Regions from separate parts of the Homo sapiens genome. Here region 2 is linked to region 1. A link means that fine-mapping ties the variant in region 1 to the expression of a gene that starts in the linked region. Tissue or cell type: whole blood. Region 1 holds a variant in brackets; the other region holds the start of a gene. All regions are shown on one strand. Distances are between the middles of the regions.

Region 1 (8,000 bases):
TTTCTTCTAGTCTTAACTCCTCCTCCTTCCCTCTCAAAATGTATTCTGCACAGAAAGCCACTCCTATTCCTCACCTCCAAGCCAAATTATACAGTCCTCTCCAGGAACACTGACATACTCAGAAACCTCCCCTAATCCATCTCACCTTAGGCTGCTCTTTCCCCACCTCTGGCTCCTGTCACACTATATAAAATCTTTTTTTTTTTTTTTGAGACAGCCTTGCTGTCACCCAGGCTGGAGTGCAGTGGCGCCATCTCAGCTCACTGCAACCTCCGCCTCCTGGGTTCAAGCGATTTTCATGCCTCAGCCTCCCAAGTAGCTGGAATTACAGGTGCGTGCCACCAAGCCCAGCTAATTTTTCTATTTTTAGTTGAGTCAGGGTTTCACCATGTTGGCCAGGCTGATCTTGAACCCCTGACCTCAAGTGATCTGCCTGCCTCGGCCTCCCAAAGATCTGGGATTACAGGCATGAGCCACCGCACCCAGCCAAAATCTGCAACTTCTTGTACCTTCTCCAAGCCCAAGCTTTTGCAGGTAACTGGAGCGCTTCCTCATTTGCATAATAGGCAGTTTCAATAACTGGGGACTTTTCTTCAAGACCACACACACAGGCTCTGGATTCAGACCCAAGAGAATAAATTCTGAAATGATGTCCAGCAACTGTTGAAGACTGGCACCTCGCCGTACACTGAGCAATTCATTAATATGGGCATTGCTGAAACCCATGTCCAGGAGGGAACTCATGACCCTCTCTAGCTCCAAGGACCCTTGTACCACAGGAGTCCCCTGCTTCTCAAGGAGGCACTGAACAAGATTCCTCCTGCACTCTGGTTCCTGCACATAGTTATTGGATCTAACACAAGATAACTCCTCAATGACCCCTCCATTGGAGGCTGTAGTCAGTTTGCGCAACAAAGAAGCTGTCGTCCTTCTCTGTTCTCCAAGATGAGGAGTCTGCCTAGCCATACAGGCCCAGGTGAGGGGGATCAGGCGGTGCCAATCAAGGACCTGTAAGACACAGGACCAAAAGACAATTAATTCCTCACTATTCCAGTGTAATGGACACCATAAGACTTCTGAGCCAGAGTACTTACTGCCTTGGTTCCACACAAACATACAATTTTTATAAGCAATCTGCAAAATCCTATCTGAACTTAAGCCTACAGAGAAGGAAGCTCACAAAGAACAGGGTATTTCAAGGCCACAGAGATGGGAGTCAAGCAGGTACAATATTGTTAGCTTTTGCAGCTTTAAGGATGGGAGCAGGGACATGGAGGAAGAGGGAAAAACTATTTCTAGGCCACCTGGTCATGTGTGCCAGAAAAGTCTGGACCTCAGACTACTTTCCAGATTCATGTTCTTAAATTCATTCCACGAGAAGAATCTTGTGGGATACAGAGTTGGCCCTTGAACAACAAGGGTTTGAACTGCTTGGATCCACTTATATGTGGATTTTCTTCCGCCTCTGCCACCCTTGAGACACCAAGACCAAACTCTCCTTCACCTCCTCTTCAGCCTAAAGACCTTATGAGGATCTACTTCCTCTTAATGAATAGTAAATACATTTTCTCTTAGGATTTTCTTTTTGTTTTTTGAGACGGGGGTCTCACTCTGTTGCCCAGGCTGGAGTGCAGTGGTGCAATCATGGCTCACTGCAGCCTTGACTTCCCCAGGCTGAGGTAATCCTCCCACCTCAGCCTTCTGAGTAGCTGGGACTACAGGTGCACACTACACCCTGCTAATTTTTGTATTTTTTGTAGAGACGGGGTTTTGCCCTTATGATTTTCTGAATAACGTTTTCTTTTCTCTAGCTTACTTTAAGAATACAGAATGCAATATATATATATACAAGATATGTGTTAACTGTTTATGTTGTCGGTAAGGCTTCCAGTCATGAGTAGGCTATTAGTAGTTGAGTTTTGGAGGAGTCAAACGTTATACACTGATTTTCAACTGGTGTGGGGGCGGTCTGGTGCCCCTAACCCCTGTGTTGTTCAAGGGTCACAGTAATTAGTCAACTTGCATACACAATTCCAGTTGACCTCAAAAGTCTTCAGTGGTTCAGGCTGGTGCTTAACAAACTATGCACAAATCATCCAGGCACTCTAAGCCAGCAGTCTTCAACGTTTTTGGCACCAGGGACTGGCTTCATGGAAGACAATTTTTCCACAGACTGGTGAGGGGTTTCAGGATGATTCAAGCATATTACATTTGTTGTGCACTTTATTTCTGTTATTTTCACGTTGTAATATAAGATGAAATAATTATACAACTCACCATAATGTAGAATCACTGGGAGCCCTGAGCTTGTTTTCCTACAACCAGGAGGTGCCATCTGGGGTTGATGGGAAACAGTGACAGATCATCGGGCATCAGATTCTCATAAGGAGCGCAACCTGGACCCCTCAAAGGCGCAGTTCACAATAGGGTTCGCGCTCCAGTGAGAATCTAAGGCGGCTGGTCTGACAGGAGGCGGAGCTCAGGCGGTAATGCCAGCGAAGGGAGCGGCTGTAAATACAGTCTGGCTGGCTCACTTGCCGCTCACCTCCTGCTGTGCAGCCTGGTTCCTAATAGGCAAGGGACGGTACCGGGGGTTGGGGAACCCCTGCTCTAAAACCTTCACATCGGTCCCAACCCCTTCTCCAGCGTCATCGATTGTCGCCCTGGGGCCACCCTGCCAAGCCCAAGCTCTGGCTGCTCTCCAGCCTCCCCTGTCCAGATGCTCCCTCCGCCAGGAACACCTGGCAGTCGCTGGGGTCAGCGGGCGCGGCCCGTGGAACTGGGCTCAAGCCTAAAGACCTCTATGCTGATTCCGCTTCCTCTTAATGAAAAGTACATGTTATCTTCCTTGTGAAGTTCAAACTCTTGTTCAACAGTCAACTCAGGCCGGGCGCGGTGGCTCACGCCTGTAATCCCAGCACTTTGGGAGTTCGAGGCGGGTGGATCACCTGAGGCCAGAAGTTACAGACCAGACTGGCCAACACGGTGAAACCCCGTCTCTACTAAAAATACAAAAATTAGCCAGGCATGGTGGCGGGCGCCTGTAATCCCAGCTACTTGGGAGGCTGAAGCAGTAGAATTGCTTGAACCCGGGAGGCGGAGGTTGCAGTGAGCCGAGATCGCGCCATTGCACTCCAGCCTGGAGACAGAGCGAGACTTTGTCT[C/CA]AAAAAAAAAAAATGTCAACTCTATATCCCACAATAATTGAGCAGAGCCACGGGTCCAGGATGCCAAAACCAGGTCAGCGTGCACGGACCTCCGGGAGGGCTCCACGACCTGGCCGTGAAACACTCGGCGGCCGCGGTTCCTCTGCGTCGCTGCCCGCCCGCCTGCGACCCGGAGAAGCCCGCGCGCCCAGCTCGAGCTTACCTGACGGCCGAACGCAGCCATAGCGCGGAGAAGATGGCAGCAGTTACGGCGCCGGAAGCAGCGGTCCTCCCCCGTCCTTCACTTCCGGCCCCCGGTCCGTCACCGACGCCGTTCCCAGCGCCAGCGCGGTGTGGTGGATCGTGATTCCGGCCCGGAGCTGTGCTGAGCGTTCACGGCCCCGCGGGGCTCAGGTGTCCCGGGGCCGCCCCTTAGAAAGCCGGAAGGCCGGAGTCGCGCCCGTCACCGTGCCGCCGCCTCTGCCGCGGCCTCAGCCTTCGGGGGCCTCGGTGTCCGGTTGTTCCCGTTGCACTGCCGTGTCCCGTTTCGCAGAGCTCTGGGCCGCGTGAACGAATGGGTCGTCCTGGCCCATACTTGTGTTTCAGATGACCTGAGAATTCCTCTCAAGAGTACAGGTAGAGGGGAACTGGTTCCTTGCTTCGGGAACTTCACCCGAGAGCGCAGAAATCCTTCCCGAGGCAGGAAAAATGGATTCCGTTCCATGTAGAGATATTTAAGATTTTATTGTGTAAAAATCTGTATTCAGCGTGAACACCGGGGCCACCTACGCACAAAAAGAAGTCTTTACCGCTTTTCTTTCTTTTTACTCTCAGCCAGTGGAAGATGAGAATTTGCCGTTTTTAAAAGACCCAAGTAAAATGACAGGAATTACGGCACATTTCCCTTTATAAGCAAGAGCCTTCCCAACTTCGAGGTCTGGTTCCCTCTTAGGATGAAATATAGTAAAGTTTTAGCCCAATGTGTATTCATTCTTAAATTTCCTCTCTCGACCTAAGAGCGTAGGCATCTTTCACAAGGTGATGCTTGTGAAGAATAAAAAGGTGTGCTTTCTCAGCTGCCTAAATCCTGCCACCAAAGCCTTAATTTATAAGCATTTCTTGTTTTATCTACTTCATTCTGGACTGACATAAAGGATTTGATTCTTGCATGGGCACACATTTACATATCTGCTTTGCGCCAGGCATGGAGTGGGGTGCCAAACAATTTATGTAAAACTGTCTTTTGACAAAAGGATTATGTCAAAGAAAAGGAAGGTTCTAATCCGTGTAGAAACTAAAGAATTGGTTGCTTTGGCAGAGTGCAGTGGCCCACGCCTGTAATCCCAGCACTGTGAGAGGCTGAGGTGGGGGGGATTGCCTGGGCTCAGGAGTTCAAGACCAACCTGAGCAACATAGGAAAATCCTGTCTCTACAAAAAATAAAAAATTAGCCGGGAGTAGTGGCGTGCACCTGTAGTCCCAGCTACTCAGGAGCCTGAAGTGGGAGGATCACTTGAGTCCAGGAGGTTGAGGCTGCAGTGAGCCATGATTGCACCACTGCACTCCAGCCTGCGTAACAGAGCAAGACCTTGTCTCAAAAAACAAAAGGAAAAAAAAAATTGGTTGCCTTTGTTGTTTTTTATAATGTAATTTTCTTCTCAAAATACTCAACTGTCAACATCTCACAATAAATTGTGTTAATGCTACACCAAAAGCCTAAGAAAATCCCATGAGCCACCCCAACTCCCTGGAAAGAATCAAGGAACCTGAACAGTTTGTCTAGCTCTAGAAATAAAATGACAGCTGGGACATGGGGATTACTATGAAAAATTGACATGAGCCCGGGTGTGGTGGCTCACGCCTGTAATCCCAGCACTTTGGGAGGCCGAGGTGGGCAGATCACCTGAGGTCAGGGGTTTGAGACCAGCCTGGAAAACATGGTGAAACCCCATCTCTACTAAAAATACAAAAATTAGCCAGGCATGGTGGTGGGCACCTGTAGTGTCAGCTACTCAGGAGGCTGAGGCAGGAGAATCACTTGAACCTGGGAGGCGGAGGTTGCAGTGAGCCAAGATCACGCCATTGTACTGCAGCCTGGGCAACAAAAGCGAAAGTACTTCTCAAAAAAAAAAAAAAAAAATTTGACATCACCTTCAGTCTTGTGTGAAAACTTTGCTCTCTCGAACCATACTTTAAAAATATGCAGTGGGTTGGGCACGGTGGCTCATGCTTGTAATCCCAGCACTTTGAGAGGCTGAGATGGGTGGATCACCTGAGGTCAGGAGTTCGAGACCAGCCTGGCCAATATAGTGAAACCCTGCCTCTACTAAAAATACAAAAATTAGCCAGGTAACGTGATAACGCACACTTGTAATCCCAGCTACTCGGGAGGCTGAGGCAGGAGAATTGCTTGAACCCAGGGAACGGAGGTTGCAGTGAGCCGAGATTGCACCATTGCACTCCAGCCTGGGTGACAGAGCAAGATTCCATCTTAAAAAAAAAAAAAAAAATGGAGTGGAAAAATTGTCAGCCTCAGCCTCAGAACTTTCCTCTCTGGGTTCTTTCTGCAAAGAACGTTTGCAAAATACCAGACCTTCCACTGCCATGAAGTCAGATGAGCTTTAATTATTTTTTCTTATAAAGAAGTAACAGTTCTTAGAAAGCTCAGACTATGCATTCTCAACCCATTAAACACCTGTCTGCAAACACCATTGTGGCCGAACGCAGTGGCTCATGCCTGTAATCCCAACATTTTGGGAGGCCGAGGCGGGCGGATCATGAGGTCAGGAGTTTGAGACCAGCCTGGCCAACATAGTGAAACCTCGTCTCTACTAAAAATACAAAAATTTAGCCAGGCGTGGTGGTGGGCACCTGTAATCCCAGCTACTTGGGAGGCTGAGGCAGAATTGCTTGAACCTGGGAGGCGGAGGTTGCAGTGAGCTGAGATCGCACCATTGCACTCCAGCCCAGGCGACAGTATAAGACTCTGTCTCTAAATAAATAAACAAACAAACAAACACCATTCTATAACATCCTCTGTGTTATAAGCACCATAAACACTACAAGGTAGGGGTTCTTAAAACATCAGAAAACTCTTTGAATTCTGAAGAGTGAACATCACTGACTTTAATACACACCTGTAAAACCCTTGTACCTTGAATGTCCCTGATAGAGGAGGGTCCTCCCCCACCAACTCCATCAGTCACTTGTGGTGGCAGCGAGGCTCAGGCAGCACTTTCTGAAGAAAGGGATGGCAATAGCCCATATCCTACTAGATGGGACTAAAATTAACTCTGATCATCCCAAAACAGTTGAGTGCCTCCTAAATAACCACTAGAAATAGCTCAGAACCACGCAGGAGGCAGCCTGGCTCCCAGGCAGCTTCCAGAGGGTTCTGGGCAGGAGTCTCAGAATGTGGAAAAACCGTCTGCAAGTGATGACATGTGGGAAAAGGGTAGGGGTTTAGGTTTTTGGTTTTTTTCCTACTGTCTCAGCAGGGGAAAAAAATGAAAGGTTCTGCTCTCACCTCTAGCTATTCCCTCCTCTCTAACACAGACATGAAATAAAACAATCCTAAGTACTTGACCTAGCCAAGTCTGTCTGAGGGGGATGGACTGGAGTCTAAGGGAGGGAAGCAGCCAGTTGAGTATCTGACAAACACCCTGGAACCTGAGCAGCTCGGAGGAATACAGGGCTGGAGCCCCTCACACAGACCAGAGGTGGGGGCTGGGCCAGGAAGCCCCTCATGTGGACAGAGGTGGGAGCTGGCTGGCCATGGGATATTTGGGGACTGCTGGCAGTGAGCCAGCCACGTGTTTGACAGCAGAGTCTTGCTACAGACAGAAGGGAGGTCCCTGAGGAAGCCACCCTCCCCCGTCTTACCAGATGGAGCAAGCTTCAGAGCCCTAGGCCCACCCCTGGCAGGGCCTGCTTGTAAAAGGAACCCCAGAATGGCCAAGGCTAGACTTCTCTCCAACTGTGGCAAGTGGGGTGCACACATGGAAAAATGAGGAAACCAGGTATTTCTCACACTTAGCACACGGGAACAGTTCACAACATCCAAGTCAGGATAACTGTTTACTAACAAAGGTGCTTTAATTTGAAAAGCATTTGAGGAAATAAATTAATGAAATAGTCTGGCCATTTGACTAACCAGTTCTACAAATTTCACATATCCGTCACTCAGATGAGCATATACCAAGTCAGAGGAAACAAAACATGCACATATACAAAAGTAGAAAGAGAAAACACTCATGCCTTCAGAAGTTCACAAATTAAAAGCCCTTTAATAATATAAAACAGTTGAACACTGGAATGTTTTTTTCTAGGTCATGAAAAAAGTGAATTCCAAATCTATGTAATAAATCTAAAATAATACAGCATCACTGTCTTCTGTTCTGGTGTTTATCAAACCTGCACATGAGTTTTTAGAAGGTGAATTGGGGATGCTTCAGAATGTATTTTCTCCAAACAGATGGAGCCTGAAAACTGTGTGATTTTCCAAACCAAGTGGAGAAAAGCAGGAAGAAATTGGTGTTTAGCTGGTCAGCAGACGGGGATCCCCGGGATGCAAACAGCCTTGGCCATTAGGAGCCTCGCCTGGAACGGGGCCCCCACAAAGCTCCTGAGCCTGGGCCACATCACTCAGGCTCCTGTTCCCCATCTCCAGGCTCGCAGCGGACAGAACTCCACTTTCTGAAGAAACAAGAAGGTAACTGTATCACGTGCTAACAACTTAAGGTTCTAAAATACTTTGCTTCTCACTTGAAGAAGTCCTAGAACAAAAGCCTAAGGTGAGGCCCTCAGAAATCCAACTGGCAATGTCCCGGAAGTACAGATCCTGCCAAGGTGGGGATCT
Region 2 (8,000 bases), 46 kb after region 1:
TGGCCCTCCCAACACCACCTCTTCCAATATGGAACTCCAAGGAGTCCCCCCTCCTTGCCTTATCCTAGCATCTGGTGGCTACTGGCCATACTGGCCATCTTTGGTGTTCTTGACCTGCAGCTGCGTCACTCCAGTCTCCGCCTTCGCCATCACAGAGCTTCTCCCTGTTTGTTTGTTTCTTTTTTTTGAGACAGAGTCTCGCTGTGTCGCCCAGGGTGGAGTGCAGTGGCGCGACTTCGGCTCACTGCAACCTCCGCCTCCCGGGTTCACGCCATTCTCCTGCCTCAGCCTCCCGAGTAGCTGGGACTACAGGCAGCCGCCACCACGCCTGGCTAATTTTTGGTATTTTTAGTAGAGTCAGGGTTTCACCGTGTTAGCCAAGATGGTCTCGATCTCCTGACCTCGTGATCCACCTGCTGCGGCCTCCCAAACTGCTGGGATTACAGGCGTGAGCCACCGCGCCCGGCCGACTTCTCCCTGTTTGTATGTATCTTCACATGGCCATCTTTTTTTTTAACTAGGAGATGAGGTCTCACTATGGTGCCCAGGGCATAAAAGATCTGATCTGTGGAAGTCAAAACACTAAACTTTTTAGCCAGGCAGGTCTCGTGGCCTGCACCTATAGTCCGAGCCACTCTAGAAGCTAAGGCAGGATAATTGCTTGAGCCCAGGGAGATGGAGGCCAGCCTAGGCAACAAAGCGAGACCTGTCAAACCAAATAAAATATAAAATAAAATCACTAAGTTTTTAGGAGAAAAGAGGCTATCTGTAAGACTTTGGGGTAGGGAAAGTTTTCTTAAACAAGGCACAAAAAACTCTAGCTATAAAATAAGATTAATAAGTTTAACGTTAAAATTGAGAACACATCACACCTGTAATCCCAGCACTTTGGGAGGCCGAGGCAAGCAGATCACGAGGTCAAGAGATCAAGACCATCCTGACCAATGTGGTGAAACCCCATCTCTACTAAAAAAAAAAAAATTAGCTGAGCATGGTGGCACACACCTGTATTCCCAGCTACTCTGGAGGCAGAGGCAGGAGAATCGCTTGAACCTGGGAGGTGGAGGTTGTAATGAGCCGAGATGACACCACTGCCCTCCAGCCTGGCGACACAACCTGGCAGGTGGAGGTTGCAATGAGCTGAGATCACGCCACTGCACTCCAGCCTGGCGACACAGCGAGACTCCGTCCCCCCCAAAAAAAAGAAAAAAAAAAATGAGAACACAGCTTCACAAAGAATACCATAAAGAAAACGAAAGAACAAGCCACAATTTGGGAGAAGATATTTGCCACATACATAACCAACAGAAAATTAATATCCAGAATAGCTTTAAAAGATCAACTATTTAAAATTTAAACATTTTTAAAAGACACATGGCCCAATAAAAAATGTCAAGAAATAGGAACAAGCGTTTTACAGGAGAGGAAATCCTAATCATGATGATGTTATACCTACTAAGTCAGCAGAAATGAAGAATCTAGTAATACCCAATGTCAAAAAGGATTTGGATCAACAGGAACTCTTAATACATTAATATAATCTCTTTAGAAAACAATTCAAGTGAAACATTTGTCTATATGGATACAGCACTTTTCACTTAGATTTATATTTCAGAGAAATTTTTGCAAACAGATAAGAAGACACCAGAATGTTCGGGACAATATGGTTCTCAATGGCAAAGAGACAGGCAGAAAAAAGGGAGGGAAGAAAGGGAGGGAGTGCGGGAGAGAGGGAGGAAAAAAGGAAATGAAACCCAAACACTCTTTAACAAGAAGATAGATTTTAAATTCTGGTATATTCATACCACTAATTACAGCAGTGAAAACAAATAAACTACACACAAGGGTGAATCTTAGCCATATACGAGTGGAAAAAATCAAGTTACGGAAGACAATCAGCAGGAGGATTCCTTTGTCATGAAATAATCTAAATAAGTAGTTCAGGGAAACACACCTATGTAATTAAACTACTTCTTAAATAAGAGACTGGTAAACCTAAATTTCAGGCAGGTGGTTCCCTCTGGGTCAGGCAGGTGCAAGAGTGGGGAAGAGGCACAAGGGCACAGGTCCCCTGATTTCCTAGGGTGATGGGTTCAAATGCATCCACTCTGCTGGTACAATTCATGACTAACACTGCCTTTATTCTTTTGTATGAATAAACTGATACGGCCAAAAAATTCAGAGACATTCACACACAAACCCAGCCTAGGACCCTGGAAGGCAAAGGCTCTGCAAACCTGCAGATGTGTAGGAAGCTATTACATATAGGGTTTGGGGTTCGAGTGTGCAGCTTTCCTACAAGCAGCAACAATGAATGGGACCTTTAGTTACAGGTTTACATCTCCTTCTCTAAGCATCCAAATGCACTAATTATTGCCATAATAAATAACAATGACATGATTATAGTGTGAGGCAGTTTTTTCTACTTTTAGAACCAACCTATAGACAAAGCTCAGGACACTTAATTATAGCTTCAGAATACATTGTAAATGTTGTAAAACCTTACTTTCTTAAAAAAGTAATATAACTCTTCAGAATACATTGTTAGAAAACTTTAATTCCTAAAAAATATAACTCTTCAGACTGCAATGTCAATGTTACAAAACTATTTTAAAAAGTCATATACCCAGTACTTTGGGAGGCCAGGCAGATTACTTGAGCCCAGGAGTTCGAGATCAGCCTGGGCAACATAGGGAGACCCCATCTCTACAAAAAAAAAATTAAAAATTAGCAAGGTGTGGTGGCACATGCTGGTAGTCCCAGCTGCTTGGGAGGTTGAGGTGGGAGAATCGCTTCAGCCCAGGAGGCGGAGGCTGCAGTGAGAGGACACAGCACCACTGCACTCCAGCCTGGGCCACAGAGCAAGACCCTGTCTCAAAAAATAAAATAATAAAAAAGTAATATAACTATTCAGAATATATTGTAAATGTTACAGAAGTTTCTTTGTAAAAGTAACTAACATGAAATGGAAAGGGGGAAAAAAAGCAAAGGGAGGGTAAGGGCATGCAATTTTTTGTCCTTCATGGGAGAAAGTAAATAAATACCAACTAAAGTTGTGGAAGTTTAATTAGGTTACTGAGAGTTACAAGCCTATCCAGGAGGGAAACTGATGGGACCCTCTGCGGGAGCGGGGAGGACAGCAGGAAAGATGCATCCTTTTTCCCGCTGTGCCTCCTGGGCATCTGAAGTCCACGTGGGCCAGTTTGTCACTGAACAGCATAGGCCCCTGGAGCCTCCCGTGCACTCCACAGCCACAGCCTGGCCTCAAGAAAGAACAGAGTCTGGCTTCACATGACCTTAGATCACTAAATTTTGACTCAGACGTTAACCAGAAATACCTGCACGTCCAGGCCCAAATTTTTAAAATTGTCCTTTGTATCCACTGTGAGCTGCAGACACGGGAACCCAAACCCAGCAGACAGCACCTAATGGTGCCACCGAGTAACCATATTCCCATTGCTAGTTTTGATTCCAGAAGACACAAGTGACCCCACCTCAGACCAAACAGAAGCAAGGACAACTTTGCAGGGAGCATCTCGGCGAACTTCTAGAAGCAACTGTCCCCCTCCCACCAGAACATAAGCTAAGAAGCAAACAGCTCCCATTGCTGTCAGCACAGCTGTACAACAAAAAGGAGAACCAGTTTCAGGATGAGGCCAACAAGGTGAACAGTGCAGTAGAACACAGCAAGGATGTCAGTCCTGGAGGAGGCACCTGCAGAGCCGGGCCCTACCAAGCAGAGTGAAGAAGTCTTTCAGAGGCAAAGCCTCCCAGAGAGGAGTTCAGTACCCAGAAGAGTAGGTGGACGTGGGCCTGGAAGGGCCAAGCATGAGCCCAGAGCCTCCTATGCCTGCCCAAAGTCTTAATTTTATCCCCAAAATGAACTTTTAAGGATTCAATGCTTAGGAGTAACATGGCCAGATATGCATTTTACAAAGATTACTCCAGGGACCATGTCGGTGCAAGGCTGGAAAGCAGGAGAAAGGCTACAGTAATCCAGGCAAGAAATTATAAAGTCTTAAATTAAGGTAGCAGCAGAAAGATGAAGAGAGGGAACCCCTAAGAGAAAAATGGACATCGAATGGTACTGAGATGCGGAAGGTAAGGACGAGAAAGGCCTCAAGACGGCAGCGCAGGCCCCTGCCGTACTCTGGGAAAGAAAAATTAGTGAAAAAATTAAGGCTCAAGTCCAGGTCTTTGCTGTAACCACGAGCGCCGGCGGCGCGCGCCCCCGACCCCGCGGCGCCGGCTGAGCCCGCAGGGACCCACACGCCCAGTGCAGGAGGCTGGCGGGATCCGGGCTGGTTCTCCTGGAGCTCGCCCCGCAGGGCCGGCTGCGGTGAAGAGAGCGCAGGGTCCCGAGGCGACCCGAGGCGCGGGGCCTCGGCGCCCACCGGGCAGGCTACACTGAAGGGCACCCCGAAGACGCTGGGGGCGCGGGGCCCAGGGCCAACGGCCGCAACCCCGCCGCGATTTGGGCACGGAGAGGACGCGGGCTCGGCGGTGCGCGAAGGGCGACGGGCGCAGGGGCGGGAGACCCGGGGTCGGGCTGGTCTAAGAGTCGGGCGGCGGATCCTCCTGGGCCAGGGGCGCGGAGCCGCGCAGGCCCCACAGCCGCCCTGGGGAGATGGCGGAGCCCGGCCCGCTCTCCCGAGCGCAGGTATCTCACCTGGATCAGGCGAGGGTCACGCCAAGCCGGCTACACACCACGGAAAGGAGCCCTTCCGCGCTTTTATCCCACCGACCAATCGCACAGCGACTAGCACCGATTGACAAGCTCCACGGACCAGCCACTTGCGCGTATGGGCGGGACTAAGCTAGCCAGAGTCTAGAAGCCCGCGCTAAGGGTTGCTAGGGACGCACCAAACACCCCTACGGCGCTTCGGAGGAGCCAAAGGAATAATGGGCGCCTCCGCCCCCGGGCCGGGCAGATGCGGTTTCCTCCCGACTCGCGATCAAAATGGGTGAGTAGCGCAGAGCTCGCCTCTTGGAGGCCTCTTTCTGAAGGCGGAGGACGCGGGGCGGCTCGTTCATGGGCCGGGTGGCTCCGCAGGGTAGACGAAGGCTGCAGCGTCCGCACTGGGCTGGGAACGACTTGCAAGGGGAGCCCAGCTGGCGCCCCGGAGCCAGCCAGCTGGCTAGCGGCCCCACCAGCGCAAGTGCCCCGCACCTGCCCGCCTGCTCCGAGCGTCAAGAGAAGGCGGCATTTCGCATGGGTAAAATCCGCGCGGGGACGCCGGGAGAATGTTGTTGCTCTTGCCGTTCGGCCCATTGTACAGACGCAGCCAGCGAGGCTCGCAGAGGTCAGGGATGCACGTAGGACTGGCCCGCACCTTGCAGCCACGGAAAGATCCGCCTGGCCCGCGGCCCCTCCACGCCTCCGAGGTCGAGACAGTGACATAAGTCAACTCTCAAGCCCAGGGCGTCTCTCCACTCTGCCTAGACGTCCACTCCGTCTGCCTGCAGCTACGGCTCTGTGCGTCCCGCTTCGACTCCCTCTGCTTTCCTTCCCAGCTTCTCGCCTCCAGACTGTTCCGGCTCCGCCGCCTGAAATTACCTGCTCTGGGGGAGGCGCGGCGCGCGGCCTCATGACGGAACTACAACTCCCATGAGGCGCTGGGCCCACGCAGGCGCGGCGCGGCTGAAGTCGCCGCGCCGGAATCCCATTGGCAGGGCCGGCTCTGAGGCGGGAGCCCTGATTGGCTGAGGGGTCTGAGGCGACAGATTCCGGAAAGGGGAAGAGCAGCCAACATGGCGGCGGAACGCGGCGCGGGGCAGCAACAGTCGCAGGAGATGATGGAGGGTGAGCGGCCCCTGCGGGCGGCGGCCCAAGGGCCCAGCGGGCGGGGGGAGCTGCGGGCTGGAACTGCTCCGTGCCTGAGAGAAACTCCACGTCCTGCCTCTGGCCGCCGCCGCGCGGCCCCCTGACAGCTGACAGCCGGACCCGGGGGAGCGGGGGAGGCGCTGGACCTCGGGGGAGCCCCGGCCCGGGGGCGGCAGCGGCCGGGAAGGACCCAGAGCTAGGGGGAGAGCGGCGGCGCGAGGCCAGGCCGGGGGTGGGGCTGAATGGGACGCGGTGGCTCCATTCAGTCCAGTTGGAGCCTCGCCCCGAGCCTCTGAGATTGACGGGCGGGGGAGCCTCCTCGGTCAGCTGACGAGGAAACTGAGGCGCTGGGATCTACCAGAGTCTGCTCCTTGGTTCACGTGGTGAGGGTGGAGAAGGGTCTTCTCTTGAAATCGAATGGACTGTTGGGAAGGGGTAACAAGGAACCGGAAGATTGAGTTACACAAGGTGATACCTGTTTTCAAAGCTGTCATAGTTCCAAAAAGTCTGAATTCAACTTTCTTCCTCCTCATTCACTTTGTTGGAAAAAAAAACCACATGCATATATGTATATGTTATACGTACACATGTGTTTATAATTTTCTGCATATCTGTAGGTACAGTCATATACGTGCACGTACAGTATGTGTGTAAAAATGCGTGCACACACCCACTTAGCAACTGGGGAATCAGTTGTGTCATCAGCTTAAGTACTTTTGGGTCCCATGGTTTGGTGAGGGGTACAGACCTCCCAGAAGAGCAGTCACTGCCTTATGTGAAAGGGGTAGGGAAGAGGAATGTGGAGCTGGGGAAGGAGGGCGGGTGCAGCAGGAAGGCCTGACATGTTAGGGAGTGGTGACAGCTGCAGAAGCAGGGCGAGCTCTGAGCTGGAGCCTGAAGAATAACTCGAAGGCAACGAGGTTGGGGATAGGGTGAGGGAAAAGAGCAAGAATCACTCAAGACGGAGAAAACTGCTGTCAAAAGGTGTGGAGGAGAGTTTGACCAAATCGTATGTGGTGGGGATGGGGGCGGTAGTGTTAAGGGTCTTGGACTTCATACCCTTTGAGTCTTTTTAAGAAGCGCCTCTTCATATCCTCCCACTCCCTCTTCAGCTGTTTCCATGTCTTGGTAAATGACAGATATAAAAGCCCGGCTTTTCTCACTGTCCCACTCCCACCCATGTCCTGTTAGTCAAGGAGCTCTGACTTTTACTTTTGAAAGTATCTCCAAATCTCCGATACGTCCTCCATTCCCATTGCCAGTACCTTAACTCAGACCTTCATCATCTCTAGGCTAGATTGATTGTCCCTGTTCACCAGCCCATCATCCCCAGTACACCAAAGTCATTTTCTTACATGCAGAGCCACTGTCCCATGTTCCAGACCCTCTCTGCTGCCCTCAGGCTTCACTTTGGCCAACCTTCGTTAGCTAAGCCTTTGCTAACCTCACACCACTCCTCCTCTTACTGGGGTTTTTGTGCCAGATTGTCATGCAGTAGAACTTTCTCTCCCTGAGCCTGGACCACCAAGTGACCTGTGCCTGGTGGTGACTAATTTGTTATATATCTACTGCATGTCATGCACGTGCTAACTGCTCTTGTGCCTTTTCTAATTTAACCGTGACAGCAACTTGCTGAGGCATAGGTGCTATACTAGCTCCCTTCCACAGACTAGGAGATTGAGGCTTTCAAATGGAAACGATTTGCCAAAGCTGCATCTCTAGCAGCAAGATGCAAACTCAGGAAGAGCATTCCAGAAATACTTTTGGACTCAAAAGATCAGATTTGGATTTTAGAATTAGATCAGACTCTCTGGCAGGGGAGAATAGGTTAAGCAGGGCAAGACAAGTCACAGAGACGAGTTAGGAGGCAGGGCAGGAGCCCAGGCTGCAGCTAATAAGTAAGTGAGCCACCGTCATTGCGGGGGTAGGGAAGAAGAGATGGATTTGGAGGTTTTGGAGGTGGGTTTTATAAGGACTTGTTTTCTACAGCAATCCTTTCTTGGGTTTTACTTTGCTAGGCTAAGCGGGAAGTACAAAGATGAAGTTGAACTTTTTCCCTCAAAGAGCACATCTCTTTGTAGATAAACCATAGTCAGGAAAGAGTATTTTCAGTATGGTTGATAATTCCAAGTAATGTGTTAGTGCCTCATGTTTTCCAGACAGACTTCCAAAAGAG

What was found. PIP is the estimated chance that this variant, and not a neighbour inherited with it, causes the effect.
Region 2: PASK starts here. The variant in region 1 is fine-mapped to the expression of PASK in whole blood (INTERVAL, PIP above 0.99).

The regions. Positions count from the first base shown.
Region 1 is chr2:241,098,887-241,106,886 of GRCh38, forward strand. It overlaps MTERF4 (mitochondrial transcription termination factor 4), which reads right to left and starts at 3,401. Exons shown (of 4, transcript NM_182501.4): 1 at 3,367-3,401; 2 at 510-1,008. The coding sequence starts at 3,387. PASK (PAS domain containing serine/threonine kinase) reads right to left here. Exons shown (of 18, transcript NM_015148.4): 18 at 7,213-7,837. The coding sequence ends at 7,680. RefSeq lists enhancers at 2,648-3,187, 3,188-3,727. The variant C/CA (reference allele first, on the strand shown) is at 3,165.
Region 2 is chr2:241,144,745-241,152,744 of GRCh38, forward strand. PASK (PAS domain containing serine/threonine kinase) reads right to left here and starts at 4,728. Exons shown (of 18, transcript NM_015148.4): 1 at 4,670-4,728. PPP1R7 (protein phosphatase 1 regulatory subunit 7) reads left to right here and starts at 5,723. Exons shown (of 10, transcript NM_002712.3): 1 at 5,723-5,803. The coding sequence starts at 5,752. RefSeq lists enhancers at 3,682-3,841, 5,355-5,514 and silencers at 4,095-4,144, 4,195-4,254, 4,315-4,674, 5,805-6,144.